2 linked regions of the Homo sapiens genome follow. The gene in region 1 interacts genetically with each later gene. Each region holds a gene or a part of one and is shown in the gene's direction. Other genes may lie near its edges.

Evidence for each region.
Region 2: changes in C8orf76 (region 1) and STK11 together harm fitness more than expected from each alone (negative genetic interaction), as found in Homo sapiens cells (one large-scale study listed by BioGRID).

Annotation. Positions count from the first base shown.
Region 1 is NC_000008.11:123,238,963-123,243,068, reverse strand, and holds the start of C8orf76 (uncharacterized protein C8orf76), read left to right. Parts: upstream 1-1,691; 5' UTR 1,692-1,722; coding exon 1,723-1,839; intron 1,840-3,924; coding exon 3,925-4,020; intron 4,021-4,106. Other genes in the region: ZHX1-C8orf76 (zinc fingers and homeoboxes protein 1), read left to right, coding at 3,925-4,020.
Region 2 is NC_000019.10:1,225,855-1,228,931, forward strand, and holds the end of STK11 (serine/threonine-protein kinase STK11), read left to right. Parts: intron 1-599; coding exon 600-793; 3' UTR 794-809; intron 810-1,738; 3' UTR 1,739-2,577; downstream 2,578-3,077. UniProt on the Homo sapiens protein: Tumor suppressor serine/threonine-protein kinase that controls the activity of AMP-activated protein kinase (AMPK) family members, thereby playing a role in various processes such as cell metabolism, cell polarity, apoptosis and DNA damage response.

The DNA of each region.
Region 1 (4,106 bases):
GTTGAAGAAAGAACGCTGAACCTGGTCAACATGAAAGAACCCCTCTCTACTGAAAATACAAAAAAGTAGCAGTGTGTGGTGGCCCGCGGGAGGCTGAGGTGGGAGGATGGCTTGAGCCAAGGAGGTTGAGGACGCAGTGAGCCGAAATTGCGCCTCTGCACCCCAGCCTGGGCGACAGAGCGAGACCCTGTCTCAGAAATAAATAAACAGATAAAATTTTAAAAAAGAAACCTGGAAGACAGATAAATGGTGGAAGAGAAACTGGTGAGAGTGAAGAGGAACAGGAAAAAAATCGGGGAAAACCTTTATGTTTATTTCCTACTGTGTAATATGGCACAATATTGTGCTGTACAGTATTGGCCAGCATTTTGTCAACAATCTTTACTTTCTAGAGTCAAGAAATATCTTAAAAGTATAAGAATTGTAGTAAATGTTAGTCTTAGAATTTTGAGATTTGGTGTTCTCCAGGTCGAATGAATGCTCCCTGATCTAGCCTCCCACGGTATATTTCTGTGTCTTTTCTTTCATAAATGCGTGAATGACTCCGGTCTTTGTTATTGGTGGTAGTGTCTCTTGTCCGGAAGCACGGAGAGTACGCATTCATTTCTGTATTTCCCAAGTTTCAGCCACATAATGACCGAAACTTAACAAGTTACTTAACCTCTCCAAACTCCAATATCTTCAAAATAGGATTTGCAAAATGGGAATCACTTTGGCTTTCATAAGGTGGTTGTTAGCCGAAAAGAAAAAATGTGCTTAACACAGTGACGGGAATGCACAGTGGTTGACAATTGGTACTTGCACCGGGCTTAGTGGCTCACGCCTATAATCCCAGCACTTTGGGAGAACGAGGTGGGCGGATCGCTTGAGATCAGGTTCGAGACCAGCCTGGGCAACGTAGGGAAACCCAGTCTCCACAAAAAATACACAAGTTAGACGGTCATGGTGGCGCGCGCCTGTAGCCCCAGCTACTTGGGGGACTGAGGCGGGATGATAGGTTGAGTCTGGGAGTTCGAGGCTGCAGTGAGCCATGATCTCACCACTGCACTCCAACCTGGGCGACAGAGCGAGACCCTGTCTCGAAATTATTTTATTTATTTTATTTTATTTTATTTTTTATTTTGAGACGAAGTTTCACTCTTGTTGCCTAGGCTGGAGTGCAATGATGCGATCTTGGCTCACCGCAACCTCCGCCTCCCGGGTTCAAGCGATTCTCCTGCCTCAGCCTACCGAGTAGCTGGGATTACAGGCGCGCGCCACTACGGCCGGCTAATTTTTGTATTTTCAGTACAGACCTGGTTACTCAATGTTGGTCAGGCTGGTCTCGAACTCCCGACCTCAAGTGATCCGCCCACCTTGGCCTCCCAAAGTGCTGGGATTACAGGCTTGAGCCACCGCGCCCGGCCTCTTATTTTAATTTTTAAAAAGGTACCTGCGAGTTTTAAACAGCTACTCTGGGGCCAGCGTGCTTTTTGATGCGTGCAGGTAAGGATCATTCTGTCCATCTCCTGACACAGAGAAGTCAAAACCTCCGTCCTGGGGTTCGGTCAGTTAGTGGGTCAGATAATCATCTCAGCTCAACCACTACTCCCAACCAGCAGCGGCCACGTCCCCGCGTCGCCCTCAAAGACTACAAGTCCCAGCGTGCCGCGCTCTGGGCCGTGGAAGCCCCGCCTTTTCCGGCGGGCCCCGCTTCCTCGTTGCCCCCGCCGCGGGCGCGAGATGGATTCCGGGTGCTGGTTGTTCGGCGGCGAGTTCGAGGACTCGGTGTTCGAGGAGAGGCCGGAGCGGCGGTCAGGACCGCCCGCGTCCTACTGCGCCAAGCTCTGCGAGCCGCAGGTGAGAAGCTGGGGCCTCTTCGCCTTATCCCGGGCCCCAGGCCTCGCCCTCCGCGGGGCCCCGGCCCCGGCCTCGGCCCCTCCGTCCGCGCGAACGCAAACCCTGGCAGGCTCCAGCGCCCGCCGCGTCCCCCGCCGTCCCTCCTCCTCCACGGGGAAGCGGCTTTCCCAGGCCCCATTCCGGGTCCATGGGCGAGAATCCCCGCGTTGTAAGCGGCTTGACTCCCACTTGGCATTTGGCCGGCCTGGCTGCTGCCGGCTGGTCTCAACGCCCCTGCCCTGCAATCTCCGGTACCTCCCGTTTGTCTTCACTGCTCTTACAGCTGGGCAGTCAGGCCTCCCAAAACGGTGACCTCCGGCAAACCCACTCTCCCCTCCCTCTTCGGCGAGCTCCCCCTGCCCGTACCAACCCCGCGCTGATGGTTAAAGTCCTTCAGTTATATCCGTTTTTCAAGGCACATCTTAAATGTCATCTCCTCTAGGAAGTCTTTTCTGATTTCGTCTTCCAGCCAAATATTTTTGTCTTTGGCCCCCTTCCCTCTATTTAGCTTCTACTTAAAGCACTTGTCAGTATTCCCACAAAGTCCTGAGACCCGGAGTGCTAAATGATCGCACCAGCATGGGTTCTTGATGCCCTTGGCAGTGCCTAACAGTTTTTATTAATAATAGTGACTCCGCGAATATTTTTGAATTAGTAGAGTATTACTTCCTATTCTTTCATGAGTGTAAATAGTTCATCAGTCAAAACTAATATTTATGGAAAATACGGAAGTGTTCCGGGCACTGTGGTGGGTTCCTTCGCATATACTGTCTCATTCGTTCCTCACAATTGTACTGACAAGATGCCAGGCACTCGATAATTACTGAATTGTGTTTTTGGTTATTTCAGTTGCATTTTCTCCTTATCACATACGATCTTTCAAAGTTACCTTCAGCCCTGGATCATGTAGACTCAAAACAGGGATTGGGCTTGGAAATCATGTGGCAGAACATTAAAAAAACTCTGGTTATGAGATAGGACTCTTGAATTCCAGTGTTGGCTTTAACCACTTGCCTTGAAGGTGTCAGCTCCTTATTTGTCCCTTCAGAAAAATAATACATGCTGGCTCACAGAGTTATCGTGGGAGTGAAATGAGATAATGTATATGAAAATACTTTGTCAGATCTGATGTGCTGTACAGGTGCATAGAATTTAATATAAATTCTAAAATGAAGTGATTTTTTTCTTTTCTTTTTTTTTTTTTTGAGGTGGAGTTTGTTGCCCATGCTGGAGTGCAGTGGCGCGATCTCGGGTCACCCCAACCTCCACCTCCCGGGTTAAAGCGATTCTCCTGCCTCAGCCTCCCAGCTAGCTGGGATTACAGACGTGTGCCACCATGCCGGCCTAATTTTGTATTTTTAGTAGAGACAGGGTTTCTCTACTGTTGTTAGCCAGGCTGGTCTCAAACTCCTAACCTCAAGTGATCTGCCCGCCTCGGCCTCCCAAATTGCTGGGATTACAGGTGTAAGCCACTGCCTTTCCCTACGTTATTTATTCAATAGTCAAGCAATCTCAGTCTCACTTTCCTTTTTATCCATAGGATTTAAATCAGTAGAAAAGCAAATAAAGTATCCTAGATGGGCATTTCCTCAGACTTCTCTCCTACAGGTTTTTGGTATTTGGTTGCATTGGAGCCTCCTTCTAGCCTTAATTTCTGTCTCCTTTGCTGAAATTCTAGTTTTTTGCCATTATGACATTTTCATAATAGCACCATATCTATAATTCTTCTTTCCTATGTCCTTTCAGTAAAGAATTGTCAATCCCTATTCCAGTCACACTAAAGTTTATCTACAAGAAAGCATGTCTCATTTTAAAGAACCAATGTGGGCTGGGTGCGGTGGCTCACACCTGTAATCCCAGCACTTTGGGAGGCCAAGGTGGGCAGAGGCAGGATCACTTGTGCTCAGGAGTTCAAGACTAACCTGGCCAGACTCTTGAAGAAGTCTTTTTTTGACGTTTAATCAATTATATTATGGGAAATTGCTTCTGAATATGAGGTGGAAAAGCATAGCTCACTCTGTAATAGGCTATTTTCATGATTTCAAGTGGTTTTATGAAGAAACAGAAAGCAGTGATGATGTTGAAGTGCTGACTCTCAAGAAATTCAAAGGAGACCTGGCCTACAGACGACAAGAGTATCAGGTAGAATTCAACATATGGTGCTTGAAGTGGGCTCTTGTTTTATCAGTTATGGCATATGTAAATAACAGTGTACCAAGTTAGTGTGG
Region 2 (3,077 bases), on another chromosome or scaffold:
ACAGTGTCCACCTGGGCAGGGTGGGCAGCCCCAGGCCTGTGGGTTTCACCAGGGTGCTGGTGATGGTTGGTGGCTAGCAGGGACTGGGGGCAGCTGGGGGCCCTGGCAGGCTGAGCTCTGCTCCCCGCGTGGTTCTGTGCTGGCATTTCGCGTGCCTGGCCTGAGCCTGGCCCGAGCCTGGCCCTCCTGTGTCCTCACAGATGAGCATGTGGCGGCTCCTGGGCCTCTAGAACCAACCATGGGCCAGGGTGCCCCAGGGGAGCACGGGAGGGTCCTGCCTTGTCAGCTTGCCTCCTACTCGTGAGGTTCCTGCAGTCAGTACCTGGGTGGGGTCCCACCTGCGGCCATGGCAGGTGCAACAGACGTGGTGGAGGGGACACTCCTGCCCAGGCCATCTGCGGGAGGCTCAGCCCCGGGGGGTGCCTCCCAGAGCTGCTGGGGGGCAGCATTTCAGGCTGGATACACCTGGGCCTGACCCGGGGGCGGGCATGGCCTGGGCAGCAGCTGTAAGTGCGTCCCCGTGGTGGGGGCCAGCCAGGTCCCTGTGGCTCTGGGGTTGCGCCCCTCAGCTCAGGCCACACTTGCCGTCTCCCTCCCAGGACAGGTCCCAGAAGAGGAGGCCAGTCACAATGGACAGCGCCGGGGCCTCCCCAAGGCCGTGTGTATGAACGGCACAGAGGCGGCGCAGCTGAGCACCAAATCCAGGGCGGAGGGCCGGGCCCCCAACCCTGCCCGCAAGGCCTGCTCCGCCAGCAGCAAGATCCGCCGGCTGTCGGCCTGCAAGCAGCAGTGAGGCTGGCCGCCTGCAGGTGGGGCGCGGCGGGGCCCGGGTGGGGCATGTGGGGACAACGCCTGGATGCCACAGCCAGCCGTGAGCATAGCCCGCGCTAGTCAGTCATGGTGACCGTCACGTGGCTGCGCGTGGTTGCCATGTGGCCTTTGGGTGGCTTGGCCACGTAGCGATCCCCGTGGAGGGTGCCGTCTCGGGGCCTGGTGTCTGGCCAGCGTGCTGGTCATGGAGGCCTACGTGTGGCGGGGCTCTGGGGGGGCGTGCCGTCCTCACAGCCACCTCTCAGAGTGGGTGCATTCCGAGGACCCTGCCCTGGGCCTGGCGCCCCCTCCCCATGCCCGCGCCGCTTCCAGGAAAGGCTTATGCTGGGCTCAGCCCAGAGGCTTTTGAGCACCAGTGGGTGGTGGGTGGTGGGGAGGGGCCGCGGCCTCCATGGCTCTGCCGGGGTGCCGCAGGCTCTGAGCCAGCTGCCAAGTATGGCTGAGGCTGAGTCGTGCCGGACGCTGCCCTGTCTCTCCCTGTGTGCCTGCCTCCTCTCCCAGCCCCAGCCCCAGCCCCGGGTGGGAGACGGAGTCCCAGAGGTGTCAGAGACCCTTAAGTCACCTGCCGAGGATGCGGGGTGGATGGGGGCCCGAGGCTGAAGCCCCTGCCTTGCCACAGCCCCTCTCCCAGGTTTTGGGGGCCACCGCCTGAGTTACATGTCTGTCCCCCAAATGGGTGCCCACAGCCCATCCACCAGCGTCAGAGCCCGCCAGGCCCCACTGCAAAAGGCCACACAATGTACCCCGGGAGTGACTCAAGGGTGGCCTTCCCTGGCCTCCCCTGCTGCCCCCCAGGAGTCCGGTAGCCCCATGACTGTACCTCAGCTTCTCCATCCTCCCAGGGGCCCGCGGGAGGCGGAGAACCGGTGCCCAGGCTGACCTCTTCCGTCTTCCTTCCACCCTGCAGCCCGTGTCCAGGAGCCCCGCCAGGTGCCCGCGCCAGGCCCTCAGTCTTCCTGCCGGTTCCGCCCGCCCTCCCGGAGAGGTGGCCGCCATGCTTCTGTGCCGACCACGCCCCAGGACCTCCGGAGCGCCCTGCAGGGCCGGGCAGGGGGACAGCAGGGACCGGGCGCAGCCCTCCCCCCTCGGCCGCCCGGCAGTGCACGCGGCTTGTTGACTTCGCAGCCCCGGGCGGAGCCTTCCCGGGCGGGCGTGGGAGGAGGGAGGCGGCCTCCATGCACTTTATGTGGAGACTACTGGCCCCGCCCGTGGCCTCGTGCTCCGCAGGGCGCCCAGCGCCGTCCGGCGGCCCCGCCGCAGACCAGCTGGCGGGTGTGGAGACCAGGCTCCTGACCCCGCCATGCATGCAGCGCCACCTGGAAGCCGCGCGGCCGCTTTGGTTTTTTGTTTGGTTGGTTCCATTTTCTTTTTTTCTTTTTTTTTTTAAGAAAAAATAAAAGGTGGATTTGAGCTGTGGCTGTGAGGGGTGTTTGGGAGCTGCTGGGTGGCAGGGGGGCTGTGGGGTCGGGCTCACGTCGCGGCCGCCTTTGCGCTCTCGGGTCACCCTGCTTTGGCGGCCCGGCCGGAGGGCAGGACCCTCACCTCTCCCCCAAGGCCACTGCGCTCTTGGGACCCCAGAGAAAACCCGGAGCAAGCAGGAGTGTGCGGTCAATATTTATATCATCCAGAAAAGAAAAACACGAGAAACGCCATCGCGGGATGGTGCAGACGCGGCGGGGACTCGGAGGGTGCCGTGCGGGCGAGGCCGCCCAAATTTGGCAATAAATAAAGCTTGGGAAGCTTGGACCTGGCCGTCTGGGTTTTGTTCGCGTCTCAACGTGGATGGGGCGGCAGCGGGGCGGGCGCCGTTGACATGCGGAGGGCAGTGGGGACTCGGGGCGCGGGAGGGCCGGGGCCGGCTCCCTCAGGGCCGGCGGCAGCAGCGGTGGCGGCGCGGTTATTGCTCGGAGGCGGCGCGGGCTGCCGCCAGCACACGCCGCAGTGAGGTAAACGGTCTCGGAGGTCGGCAGTCACGGTGTTGAGCCGCCTCCCGGCCCAGGGCGGCGAACTCGTCTGCGACCGTTAGCGCCCCGCGGCCCCCGCCCGGGCGAGCTCGCGCACGCGCCCGGCACGCGGCGGCTCCATCGGGCCCAGTGGGCTGCGCGACCCTCGGGTGGCGGGCCCTGCGACTAAGCGGCCGCCCCGTCCGGGACTGAGGGCGAGTGATCGTTGTCCTCAGGAGCCCGAAGCTGAGAGCCGTTCACGCCCCTTCCTTCCCGCCCAGCCGGGGTCTCCGCGGCCCGCGC